2 linked regions of the Homo sapiens genome follow. The protein of the gene in region 1 purifies or fractionates together with the protein of each later gene. This does not show direct contact. Each region holds a gene or a part of one and is shown on either strand. Other genes may lie near its edges.

What was found. Proteins that work in one complex are often made in the same cells at the same time.
Region 2: the proteins of RBM24 (region 1) and TYMP purify together in Homo sapiens (affinity purification with mass spectrometry; 3 studies listed by BioGRID and IntAct, with this or other methods). This does not show direct contact.

Annotation. Positions count from the first base shown.
Region 1 is NC_000006.12:17,290,462-17,295,092, reverse strand, and holds the end of RBM24 (RNA-binding protein 24), read right to left. Parts: intron 4,245-4,631; coding exon of another isoform or gene 4,200-4,244; intron 3,338-4,199; coding exon 2,974-3,337; coding exon of another isoform or gene 2,961-2,973; 3' UTR 1,222-2,960; downstream 1-1,221. UniProt on the Homo sapiens protein: Multifunctional RNA-binding protein involved in the regulation of pre-mRNA splicing, mRNA stability and mRNA translation important for cell fate decision and differentiation. Plays a major role in pre-mRNA alternative splicing regulation.
Region 2 is NC_000022.11:50,527,013-50,535,880, forward strand, and holds the start of TYMP (thymidine phosphorylase isoform 1 precursor), read right to left. Parts: upstream 3,001-8,868; 5' UTR 2,892-3,000; exon of another isoform or gene 2,708-2,891; 5' UTR 2,698-2,707; coding exon 2,484-2,697; intron 2,327-2,483; coding exon 2,124-2,326; intron 1,599-2,123; coding exon 1,500-1,598; intron 706-1,499; coding exon 576-705; intron 272-575; coding exon 153-271; intron 1-152. Other genes in the region: CIMAP1B (ciliary microtubule associated protein 1B), read right to left, coding at 3,646-4,046, 4,179-4,283, 4,558-4,761, 4,957-5,065. UniProt on the Homo sapiens protein: May have a role in maintaining the integrity of the blood vessels. Has growth promoting activity on endothelial cells, angiogenic activity in vivo and chemotactic activity on endothelial cells in vitro. Catalyzes the reversible phosphorolysis of thymidine.

The DNA of each region.
Region 1 (4,631 bases):
GCTACTATATATATATATATATACATACACACACACACACCCATATATATATATATATATATATATATATAGTTTTTTTTGAGACAGAGTCTTGCTCTGTCGCCCAGGCTGGAGTGCAGTGGCATGATCTCTGCTCACTGCAACCTCCACCTCCTGGGTTCAAGCAATTCTCCTACCCGATTCTCCTGCCCCAGCCTCCTGAGTAGCTGGGACTACAGGCACGTGCTACCATGCCTGGCTAATTTTTTGTATTTTTAGTGGAGAAGGGGTTTCACTGTTAGCCAGGATGGTCTCAGTCTCCCATGATCCGCCTGCCTTGGCCTCCCAAAGTGCTGGGATTACAGGTGTGAGCCACCGCGCCTGGCCACTACTACAGATTTACTTACTATGTATCTGGCTCTGTGGCAAGTAGTTGGTGTGCTTTTTAAATTTAATTATTTAAATAACCATGCGAGACAAGTATTATTGTCACAATATTATAGATGAGGAATGCATTAAAAAAGTGAATTACAGACCAGGTGCGGTGGCTCACACCTGTAATCCCAGCACTTTGGGAGGCTGAGGCGGGCAGATCATGAGGTCAGGAGATCTAGACCATCCTGGCTAACACGATGAAACCCCGTCTCTACTAAAAATACAAAAAATTAGCCAGGCGAGGTGGCGGGTGCCTGCAGTCCCAGCTACGCGGGAGGCTAAGGCAGGAGAATGGCGTGAACCTGGGAGGCGGAGCTTGCAGTGAGCCGAGGTCGTGCCACTGCACTCCAGACTGGGTGACAGAGCAAGACTCTGTCTCAAAAAAAAAAAAAAAAAAAAAGGTGAATTACGAAGAGCAATTGGCTTCACTAACATTGCTGAAAAGTGGGGAGTCCAGCTCAAACCTGAGTTTAGCTGACCCGAGCACCACTGGGCTGGTCCCACTTCTGACTAGTCCTCTCTACTACTGGCCCACGCCTTCCAAGCCATCTTTCAGCTAACCAGTTTTCAGTGATACGAAGTCCTTTAGGGCTCCCCTGGTGGGACAGGGGATGACCTATATCATTTGCTAAGTATAAGGTAGATATTCAGTTAGTGAAACTTACTTTAAAGGCACAAAACCAGGACATCCAAGAGAGTATTATGCTCACTGAAAATGTTACGTATCAATCATGGCTATTGATTCAAGTTCAAAAGAGAAATCATTGACCTTTACTACAGAATTAGAAACAGCCAATGCAACAGAAGTTTTTAAAAATTATATTTAATACAAGTGAATAGATTAGAAGATCTGAAATGTTATAAAGCAATATACACAACGAATAAATAATTTGCACAGGAGAGTCATGTCTACATTACATAACACTGTCTAGTATGGGAATACTTAAAGTAAATCCAGTGATAATGGAGAAAGTCCATAAAAATGCTAACCTGTCTTCCCTTGTATGAAATTGTTCAAGTATAAAAATCCAATACAGTGTAAAATAGTATTCAATTTAGTTTAAGAATAAAAATTGCAAGTATTGCAGTTTCAGAAGAAAAATGTAAAGCAGCATTTAAAAACTACATAATAGTGTTAAACTAATGAATTACCAATAAATGAAATCTACACAGGCAAAATCAGAGGAGGAAGCATGAAACTAGCAATATATCGTTTAAAAAAAAATCTAAAAACTAAACTAAAATGTGTTAATGTAAGAGTACTCTCTTATACAGTGCACATATGAATTTAAATAAATCCAAGTCAACATCTTTAGTTGAATAGGTTAATATTTAATACGCTACATCTAGACTTACTAAATAATTTATGCCATGAGATGAATACATAATTTTACAGTGTCACATCTAAAGTTCCTTTCTTTAGAGTGCAGCATAGTAAAACTTAAAAATAAATATCTTAAATAGCATTACTATTAAGGCACAGTATAAACCACATTATCATTAACCTTTGAAGAATTGTAATCTCAGTAACCTTGTTGTCTCATGTACTGTAGTCACTAATAAATAGTTTTAAATATGACTCTGAAATAGATACTAAAGTGTAAAATTACTTAAAAAGGGAAAAAAAATAAATGTCCTTAAGACAGTTCTGCAAACTTTGCCTGCCTTTATTCATAAGCCACGAGTCGACACAATAAATAGAAAGAGAAGGCTGTTGTAGTAAAAGCCTGATCCTATTTCAGAATCAGAATTGCTGACACCAGCAGATACAAGTTTCCCAAAATTGAAACAGGATGGGGAGAGGGATTAGAATGTGACAAGCTCATCAAACAAGCACAAGTGATGTGTTCTTTCCAGAACTGTGTGTGTTATTGATTGTCTGTACAGCTGTTGCACCCATTAATTCCACATCACTTGTTCCACAGTTCCACTCATCCACAGGACAGATGAGAAAATAGCTTTGGTGCCTGTCCACCATTTTACCCACTGCCACGCTCCTAGATTGATTGTTCGATGCCCATTTTTGAGATAGTAAGAACAGGACCTTCCGACTTGAAAAAAGTTCTATAGGCCTTAAGTGACTGCTAAAAATGACAATCAGTGCTTTCGCCATTTTGTTTGTAAAAAATCTGCTTTTAAATGTAATTCAAGCTACATATTGCTCGCTCTGTATTCCCTGGTTCAACTAGATTCAAACAGCATTTTCTAACTTGTAAAAGGCAGTTTGCTTCCCTGATACTATAAAAAGAGCAAAAATAAAAATCCCGTTACAAAAGTGAAGTTCCGTTGTTACTCCTGGCGTCATTTCGTAGTGGCCTTTCATTTACTCAGGCTCTTTGGGATTGATTTCCAAAATTGTGCCCATTCCCCTCATTCTTACCTCTTTCTCATCTAGAACACTACCTGGAGTATAAAAAAAATAATAACTCTGCTTCACAATAGCATGGCTGTTTTTTTTTTTAAAGCTGTTAAGTCAATGTTAACTCTCTTATTAGCTACTAAAAATTGGAAAATTGGGAGGGAAAGAGAAAACAATTCAACTTTGATCAGATGGCTGGTCTATTGCATTCGGTCTGTCTGCAGCTGCTGAGGCTGGTACTGGCCAAATGCTGCAGCGGCAGCAGCTGCTGCAGCGGCGGCGGCAGCTGTCCCAGGTGCCGCTGCGGTGATTGGCTGCTGGACTGCGTAGCCATAGCCCCCAGCAGTAACATATCCTGCAGCAGCTGGAGAGGCTGCATAGGGGTACTGGTCATAGGCAGCAGCGGCGGCGGCAGCAGCAGCAGCTGCTGAGTATTGTGCGTATGCAGCTCCAGTGTAATCAATGTAAGGGGTGGTGGAGGCGGCAGCTGCTGTCGGCTGGACGTGTGGAATGACCACTCCCGGCTGCACAAAAGCCTGCGGATAGACATAGTGGGCAGGTATCCTGTTGAGAAATGGAAAACAAAGTCAGGCGGTAGTCACCTCCTAACTGTAGCATGTTGTTCAAAGATAAAACAAACTCAAATTTAGTGGTTATTATGAGCATAGGGTTGCCACAATATCTACTTTCTAGTGGTCCATTGAGAATACTCAGGCAGTAGCCAAAGTCATAGAGTGCCCCCAGAAGAACTGGACCCCAAAAATATGATGACACCCTCCCTGCTAGAATTGTCATGTATGATTATTTGGAGCTGCTAAGTACAGTTTATCAAGAGTTTGGAAAATAAATCAAGATTCATGAGGGCTACACACGTAAGAGAGGTTTAACAAGTGCTCAATTGATGAAGACTTTGGAAAATTTTGTAATGAGTTCATAAAATAAGAATGTTTAATTAAGTAAATAGAAAAATTCTTAGCCAAGAATATAGGACTCAAAAGGTAGTCCATAATTATTCACTTCTGTGGGGTGATCACCAGTTTGTCGAAATTAACATAAACGTTAACAAAATCCGTATGTTTATTATCATGGCAACCCTACTTGAAATTGCTATGCAGACTCAGCACACATTAATCTCTCTGCAACCTCAGTCACCCTTATTAAAAATAATAATTAAAAAAGGAAGCAGGCGACAAAATAAGAAAAAGGAGTTTAAAAGTTCACAAGTGTGGTAAACACAGCAGAATCACACTTCTCAAACGAACTGTAGTGCAGCTCACTCTGTCACAAGAGGCTGTCGTGGGAAGCTACAAAAATGCTATTAACATTCATGGCAGTGATTCCCAAAGAGATGTGCAGCACACTTATTTTCTTTCTTTCTCTTTTTTTTCCCCCATAAAATTCATAAGGACACAACGGTCAACCAAACCTGTTTGACTATCAGGCACCTGAGGGTCAGCCAGCTTGTTTATCTCTATGCAAGACAGACAGAAGGGGTTTTGGGGAAATGATGAGGTTGAGGGAAAAGGCAGGACAGGGAAGTACAACTAAATATTTCTAAAATTAATAGAAATTTAAAAGGTTTACATAACAAGGAAACTTTTTTTGCACATCTACTAACTCTTGTTTCATCCTCCAAATTAGCAGAAATACGTTAGTGTTATGTTCGAAATCTGCCCTATTCGTTGATATTTTGTACAAATCATATCAATTGTATAATCATGTGTTATCCTGCAAAAGTTCAAGAAAGTCAAACAAAACCAAGTATCTTTTAAAATTATACATTCACAGATAATACAAGACAGACTCCAATGACGTTACTTAAAAGTTAATGTGGTTAAAAAAATAAATCACAAGAGGT
Region 2 (8,868 bases), on another chromosome or scaffold:
GCCGTGAAGGAGGGAGGGACTTCGGGCAGAAGAGGGTGGGACTGGGGTTAGGCAGGACTGCTGAGTGGAGGGAGGCAGTGGGGACGGGAGGGGTGAAGGGTAGGCTGGGCCCGCATCAAGACGCTTGCCCAGGGAAAGGCCACACCGCTCACCAGCGTCTTTGCCAGCTCCCGGGCCTGCTCCTGGTTGGGGAAGACGGCGGCCCCTCCGAACTTAACGTCCACCACCAGAGCGGACAGCCCCTCCACGAGTTTCTTACTGAGAATGGAGGCTTTGGGGGAGGCAGAGGAGGTTGGAGACAATGGAGAACCTGGAGCTTCTTGGGAGAGTTCGGGGATGCCGACTTTGGGGTCAGGGGCCCTGAGCATTGAGGGTCAAGTCCCTTATTATGGGGGTGGCAGCACCTGGTGGGTTGAGTATCAGGCCACCCCACATGGTGGTGGTCAGGCATCTTGTGATGGGGGTAGGGGGGCACACGGTCAGGTGACGGGTAACTCCTAACGAGAGGCCCTTGACTTGAGTTTGGAGGTCAGGAGCCTGTGAACATGCAGAAGCAGGCCATGGAGTCAGGTCACCTGTGATGAGTGGCAGGCTGTCCACGGTGGCTGTCACATCTCTGGCTGCATATAGGATTCCGTCCGCAGGAACCAGCTGCTCACTCTGACCCACGATACAGCAGCCCGCCTGGTCCAGCAGCACTTGCATCTGGTCAGACATCCCCTGTTCTCAGTGACTTATGGTAAATGACTTAGCAGCTTTTTTTTTTTTTTTTTTTTTTTCTGTGAAGAGTCTTCCTCTGTTGCCCAGGCTGGAGTGCAGTTGGCACAATTTCGGCTCATTGTGACCTCTGCCTCCTGGGCTTAAGTGATCCTCCCACCTCAGCTTCCCAGTAGCTGGGACTACAGGTGCGCACCACCACACGCGGCTTTTTTTTTTCTTCTTTTTTTTGTAGAGATCAAGTTTCACTATATTACCCAGGCTGATCTCCAACTGGGCTCCTCTGCCTCCCAGAGTGCTGGGACAGGGTCTCACTCTGTTGCCCAGGCTGGAGTGCAGTGGCATCGTCCCGGCTCACTGCAGCCTAGACCTCCCAGGCTCAAGTGATCCTCCTGCCTCAGCCTCCTGAGTAGCTGGAACCACATGCGTGCACCACCACACGCAGCGAACTATTTTGTAGAGATGGGGTTTTGCCGTGTTATCCAGGCTGGTTTTGAACTCCTGGGTTCAAGGGATCTGCCCTCTTCGGCCTCCCCAAGTGCTAGGACTACAGGTGTGAGCCACCGTGCCCCGCCAGCCATCTGTGATTTTGACCAACTTCCCATTTTATGATCCTAATCAAAGTTCCACTGATGATTTCGGCCCAGGCCCAGTGACTCATGAGTAACCTTGACCAGTGTTCTCATTAGTGACCCTAATGATCCACCAGTGATCTTTTAGTGATTCTGGCCAGGGTCTCCATCATCAACCTGGATTAATGACTGATCCGTGGCGCCCCGTACCTGCTCTGGGCTCTGGATGACATTGAATCCAGGAATAGACTCCAGCTTATCCAAGGTGCCTCCTGTGTGCCCCAGACCACGTCCGCTGATCATTGGCACCTGGTGGTCAGGGATGCTGAGTACCCTGCACAGTACCCCTCCCCCACCTCTGTGCATCCCTTCACCTTCCCTGGCTAGGAGTGCAGCTGGATTTGGAAAGTATTTAAGCAGCTATAGGGGTGCCCAGCTGGTGAGGGAATGGAAAGGAAGTTTTCTTGGTTGAGAAGTGTCAGTAGGGGAGGAGGTTGGTACCTGTCCTTGGGGAAACAAGGCTTGGGGCAGAGGGAGGAAAGTCCTCAGCTCCTCCCTTGGGGGAGCTGTCTGGGGACCCAAGGGGAAAGGGGTCTGAATTCCATCAGTGGATCTTTTTCCTGCTCCAAGGGGCCTGGTCTGGAGCCAGAGGGGCCCCAAGCGCTGTGCTGGGGAACGGGGTGGGGAGAACTGTGCTGGGGAGCAGGGTGGGGAGAAGCCTTGGTAGGGTCTTGGAGGCTTTGGGCCAGGCTTGAGGTTGGGAGCTGCCTGTGGATGGACTGGTTGCTGCATGTGCGGTATAGGCTCCCGTCTGGAAAGGAGGTGGTTTCTAACCTTGCAGCCACATGCCGCCAGGGCAGGTGCGAGGACCAGGCTGACCTTGTCACCCACACCCCCTGTGGAATGCTTGTCCACAAGCTGCTGGCGCCAGGCCTCTGGCCACTCCAGCTGCTGTCCCGACTGAGCCAGGGCCTGGGTCAGCACCGAGGTCTCCTCCAGATCCATGCCCCGAAGTCGGATGGCCATCAGCATGGCCCCTGGTATGTGGGGGTACGCGTGAGGGTGGCAGCCCACAGCGGTGGGGCACCCTGGGGCCGGTGCTGGTAGTGGGGCACCGTCGCACCCCCAGGGACCCAAAGTCTCTCGGGCTGACCTCCCAGTCGGGGTCAGGAACGCCCAACCCTCCCCACGCACCGATCTGTGCGCCCTGCGCGCTCCCATTCACCACAGCGGCCACGAAGCCCCTGATGTCCGCTTCGCTCAGGCGGCCTCCGTCTCGCTTCATGCGGATCAGCTCCGGGAGCTGCTTGGGCTCTGGCGAAGGGTCGGGAAGTCCCTGGCTCCCTTCCCCGGAGAAGTCACCAGGCGCGGGTGGGGCCCCGGTTCCCGGGGTCATCAAGGCTGCCATCGCTCCGGGCCTGCGGGGATGCCTGACACGTCCGGGGTCTGCGGCCTCCCGGCGTCGGTGTCTGAGCCACGTGCTCCTGTCCCGACCCCTTTCCCGTGTCTCTCCGGTGTCCGCCCCTCGGTCCCGTGTCTGTGTCGCCCTCGTCCGTGTCTGCCTCCCGCTTCCCCGCCTCGCGACTTGAGCCCCGCCCGTACCTGCTTAGGGCGCTGCCCTCGCCCGCTTGCTCCGGATCCCAGCCCAGGTACCCGGCCTCGCCCGCGGGTCGGGACCGTAGGGTTCAGGGTTCGCGCACAGCGGTCCACTGCCGGCGGCGGGGCGGCGGCGCCCCAGGACGGCAGGCGGGTGGGGCCGCCTGGAGGGCGGAGCTCGGCAGTCGCCGCCCCCGGGAAGCCTTGCACGCCGCGCCCCGGCCAATCCCCCGGTGCCCCCGGACACGCGGAACTTCCGGGCCGTCGGGGCCCGGGGCCGTCGGCGGGGGTGATCCCTGGCCGGTCCCGCCCGGCGTGGGTCTCGGGCGTCTGTGGCTCCCGAGAGTCCCCCTCCCGCCCTCGGTGGGGTCTCGACGTTCGGACGCGGCGCAGCGCTGGGGTCCCGGCCTCGCCCGACGCTCGGGCCCCGCCCCGCTGGGTTCGGAGTTGGGACACGGCCCCAGCCGTGGCTCCACCCCAGGCCTTGCGCCAGGACGCGCAGAGAGAGAGAGAGAGAGGCGGACACGATGCGGACTCGCAGACTTTAAGCAAACACGTGTGGGGCCGCTCCCGCCTGGCGGGTCAGTTGTCCGCGTCGGTCACCAGCGGGGCCAGGTAGTCCGAGTGCCGGATCCCGAAACTCCAGCCGCGGGGCTTCCGGTGCTGCGGGCCCGGAGACACCGCTGACCTCGCGGGGCCGGCATCCTCTCCGCGCCGGGACCCCTGGACCCCCGGGGACTCTGATCCCATCACTCCGACCTCAGGCCCTCCCCACTCTCCTGACTCTGACCCTTGACCCTGGGCTCCAGGCCACCTGATCCACGTTGTAGGCCGCGGGCCCTGGCTTCCGAGTGTTGTCTTGGGGGAGCGAAGTCCGCGCCAGAATCGTGAACTGGGGGGCCCGGGACTTGTAGACCCCTGGACTCACGACCTGATAGGCGCAGGGGCCCGGGGTCTGCGAGAGGGCAGAGGGTGCTGGCTGCCGCCTCCACTGCCGCGGACCAGGGACCCCCTGCGTCCGCCCCGGCCCCTCCCCCACCTTGCTGAGGTCCTCGAAGAAACTGCCAGCCGCTCTGCGGCCGTAGATGGAGCAAGTTGGGGCGGAGACTTTGCCGATGACGCGCGGACCCAAGAGCGAGGGCACCGTATAGGCCGCGGGACCTGGGGAGGAGGCAGGGCTCGGGGGTAGTGGGTCTCCGCGGACAGGCGCAGGGTGGTCCCAGCTCCCGGAGGGCGGTCCCCGGTCTCGAGTGGGAAGGCCCACAGTTCTGGGATGGGCCGTTCTGACCTCACCTGGGCTCTGCTGTTCCGCCTGGACACCCCAGTTTCGGGGAGCAATGGTGTGCCGAGGCGCACTGGGGTACGTCGCGTTCCCCGCTCGCTCCGGGAAGTACCTGCCTGCGGGGCGGATCAAGGGTGTGGGGGGCTAGAACTGCGTGGGAGCCTGGTGGGTACCCGAGATGGGGTCCTGGGACTAGTGGGGAGTCTGAGCCACGATTTATCAAAGCCCCGTGGGGTTCGGGGTTTGGGATTTGAGATCCGGATATGGGGGTACCGAATATGCGGTGTTAGGGTATCCGAGGGGGACTCGGGGTTCAGGTCGGGGGTTCCCAGGTGGGCCTCCCTGGAGGCAGTTCGGCGTTGGGGTGGCCAGGGGCCCGGGGGTCCTGACCAGGTCCCGGAGTGAGGAAGGGCGCTGAGCGGCGTGGGCGGCCGTAGATGGAGTAGGCGGGGGCGCCGTCGGTGCCGCGCACGGTCATGCGAGCGGGCACCAGGTGGCCTGGCCCGGGGCCGCACGTCGTCTGCTGCGTGGGGAAGCGCGCGCCGAAGGTGAAGGCGGGGGCGCGCGGCCGCGACGGGTCATGCAGGGCGTAGCCTGGGAGCATCCGAGTTAGCGTCTGGCCGGGCCCAGCCCCAAGCCCCATCTGCAACACGGACCCTCCCCCGGCACAGACCCCCTCTCCCCTCTAGCAGGCACGGTTCAGCCCCGAGCGCAGGCCTCCCTGGTCTCTTCCCCTTCCCTCCCCCAGGCGCCGTCCCACCCCTCAATCCCGGGGCCTGCCCCTTCTACCGGTGTTGGGCGGCAGCTTGTATTTGGGCCCGGGGCCTCCGTAGTGCGCCGCGATGGGGCCGCGGGGCCGGTGTGGCCGCCAAAGGCCCACCCAGGCGTCCGAGCCCATAGCGCGGGTGGGGGGCGCTTACGGCTCGCAGCACCTGCGGACAGAAGGCGGTGGCCGCGGCCCCTGCACCGCAAATTCTTGGGGAGCGCACTTTCCCACTACCCTGGGATCAGCGCGGGGCGGGGCGGGGCCTGGACCGTATCCCTGGCGCCAGCAAAACAAACGCGAGCTTCCTTCCCGGCTGTGTGGAGCTTGGGGCCGGGAGCGGATCCAGGGCCATCACCCGGACTCCAGGCGCATTAGGCAGGGACGTGAACTCGCGGGGGCCAAGTCTAGACCCAGACTTGGTGAAGGGAATCACCTGGGGGTGGGGTGGGGGCAGGAGATTTTCGTGCTGTTGGGAAAGGGTGCCCCGGGAAGGGCCTGCGTGGGGGACCCGGTGCCCCGAGGTGCACTGACCTGTTGTGGTAGCTCCTAGCGTGGGAAAACAAAGCGACGTGGCTGGACATCCCCGCTCCGCCCCGCCCACCTCCCAGACCCCATTGTGGCCCTTTCCCGCTTCCTGGCAACCGCACTGACTGCCTGCCCCCCCAACCTGGGTCCGCCTCCCCCTTCCCCACCACCCAGTGCCGCCGCTGGGCCTCTGTGTGGATTCTGTGGCACGGGTGGGATAGTAGCCTGGGCCACCCAGAACGCTGGCCTCACCCTTACCCAAGTTTCAGTATACCCATTCTGGAATAGGACAAATCTGCAGACAAAAGCAAGGATGGGAATAAAGGAACTGAATAATGCAAAGCACACACTCCATTTAATTATGTGTAGAGAGAGGACTTATCTATTTAAGTCCATGAAATATTCGCAAAAAAAATCATGTATTGGGCCACAAAATAATCACACAAATTGAAAAAAAGATGTGACACATGATTTGATTACAATCAAATACAATTCTAGGCAAACAAAATGTAAAAAAAAGAAGAAGAAAACTCAGCCTGGGCAATACAGTGAGACCCATCTCGACAAAAAACTTTAAAAATTAGCTGGGTGTGATGATGTACATCTGTATTCCCAGCTATGGGGTCGGTGGCTGAGTCGGCAGGATCTGTTGAGTCTGGGAGTTGGATCCTGCAGTGAGCAGTGATCCCACCACTAGACTCCGGCCTGGGTGACAGAGTGAGACCTTGTCTTAAAAAAAGAAAAAAAAAGGGAGAGAGAGAACAGGAAGCAGGAGCAAACAAATATTTTGAAATTGACAAATCTTTAAAAAAAAACCCTGGATCAAAACTTGTCAGAAATAATCTGGTTACAAACTGTAGCAGGAAGAGCCGCAGACAAAACTCCTCAGACACCAGGTTAAAGAAGGAAGGGATTTATTCGGCCGGGGGCATCGGCAAGACTCCTGTCTCAAGAGCCGAGCTCCCTGAGTGAGCAATTCCTGTCCCTTTTAAGGGCTCACAACTCTAAGGGGGTCTGCGTGAGAGGTCATGATCGATTGAGCAAGCAGGGGGTACGTGACTGGGGTCTGCGTGCACCGGGTAATCAGAACGGAACAGAACAGGACAGGGATTTTCACAGTGCTTTTCCATGCAATGTCTGGAATCTACAGATAACATAACCGGTTAGGTCAGGGGTCCCTCTTTAACTACCAGGCCCAGGGCGCGGCACTGGGCTGTCTGCCTGTGGATTTTATTTCTGTCTTTTAGGTTTTACTTTTTCTTTCTTTGGAGGCAGAAATTGGGCATAAGACATATATATGAGGGGTGGTCTCCTTCCTTAAAACTACATATCAAACACTACAAAGGTAGATTCCCTTCCTACTGAACTCCTACAGGAGGCAGCTAAAGCTGTGTTCTTGTGGGCGGAGGATTACCCAGGTGCCGAGGCAAGAGACTGAAGGCACAAACTGTTTCAGTATAATAAAGAAAATAGTTACAGTAAGAATAGTTATCATACAAATTAGATATAGAGATGACCATGGACATTATCAATCATTAGTGTAGACATTAGTCATTAACTTTTAATATTACTCTTTGTTGCATCATTAATATAACCTAGGAATCACCGGCGGGTATAGGGTCAGGTGCTGAAGGGACATTGTGAGAAGTGACCTAGAAGGCAAGAGGTGAGCCGTCTGTCACGCCCATATAAGGGCCGTTTGAGGGCTCCTTGGTCAAGCGGTAACGCCAGTGTCTGGGAAGGCACCCGTTACTTAGCAGACTGCGAAAGGCAGTCTCCTTTCTTTGAAGGAGTCAGGGAACACTCTGCTCCACCAGCTTCTTGTGGGAGGCTGGATATTTTCCAGGCCTGCCCGCAGTCATCCGGAGGCCTAACCCCCTCCCTGTGGTGCTTCACTGGTCACGCTCCTTGTCCACTTTCATGCTCCTCCCATACTCCTGGTTCCTCTTTGAAGTTCACAGTAGATAGCGGTAGAAGAAATAGTTAAAGTCTTAAAGTATTTGATCTTTCTTAGAAATGCATAGAAGAAAACGCTGACGTTTGCTGCCTTCCCTCTCTGCTTCAGCTACCTAAAAGGGAAGGGGCCCCTGTCCTGTGATCACGTGACATGCTTCACCTTGTCAATCACTCAGAAGATTCACCCTCCTTACCCTGTCCCCTTGTCTTGTATGCAATAAATATCAGCCGTTTGGGGCCACTACCGGTCTCCTCCTCTTGATGGTAGTGGTCCCCCGGGCCCAGCTGTTTTCTCTTTATCTCTTTGTCTTGTGTCTTTATTTATTATAATCTCTCATCTCCGCACACGGGGAGAACACCCACTAAGCCCCGTACGGCTGGACCCTACATGTTCTGAGGAAAATTTATAGTCATTTTAAGATGACTTCATTATGGCTGGGTGCGGTGGCTCACGCCTGTAATCCCAGCACTTTGGGAGGCCGAGGCGGGTGGATCACGAGGTCAGGAGATCGAGACTATCCTGGCTAACATGGTGGAACCCCGTCTCTACTAAAAATACAAAAAAAAATTAGCCAGTCATAGTGGCGGGCGCCTGTAGTCTCAGCTACTCGGGAGGCTGAGGCAGGAGAATGGCGTGAACCCAGGAGGCGGAGCTTGCAGTGAGCGGAGATTGCACCACTGCACTCCAGCCTGGGCGACAGAGCAAGACTCCATCTCAAAAAAAAAAAAAAAAAGACTTCATTATTATTATTTTAGACAGAGTCTCACTCTGTCAACCAGGCTGGGGTGCAGTGGAGCATCTCAGCTCGCTGCAACCTCTGCCTCCCAGGCTCAAACAATCTTCCCTTGTCAGCCTCCCAAGTAGCTGGGACCACAGACATGCACCACCACACTCGGCTACTTGTTTTGTATTTTTGGGAGAGGTGGGGTTTCACCATGTTGCCCAGGCCGGCCTTGAACACCTGGGCTCGAAAGATCCACCGGCCTTGGCTTCCCAAAGTGCTGGGATTACAGAAGTAAGCCACCCAGCCTCGTGACTACATTATTAATGAAGAAACGATTCAAAAAGCTTAGTATATATCTTACAAATGGAAAAAAAATAAGTAACATAAAGGAATGAAACAGGAACTAACACAAAGTAGTAGATAAAATATAATAACTATATATGTATATTTTTGAGACAGAGTCTCGCTCTGTCGCCAGGCTGGAGTGCAGTGGCACAATCTCGGCTCACTGCAACCTCCACCTCCCGGATTCAAGCAATTCTTCTGCCTTATCCTCCCGAATAGCTGGGATTACAGGCGCCCGCCACCATGCCCAGCTAATTTTTGTATTTTTAGTAGAGATGGGGTTTCACCATGTTGGCCAGGATGGTCTCGATCTCTTGACCTTGTGATCTGCCCGCCTCGGCCTCCCAAAGTGCTGGGATTATAGGCGTGAGCCACCGCGTCCAG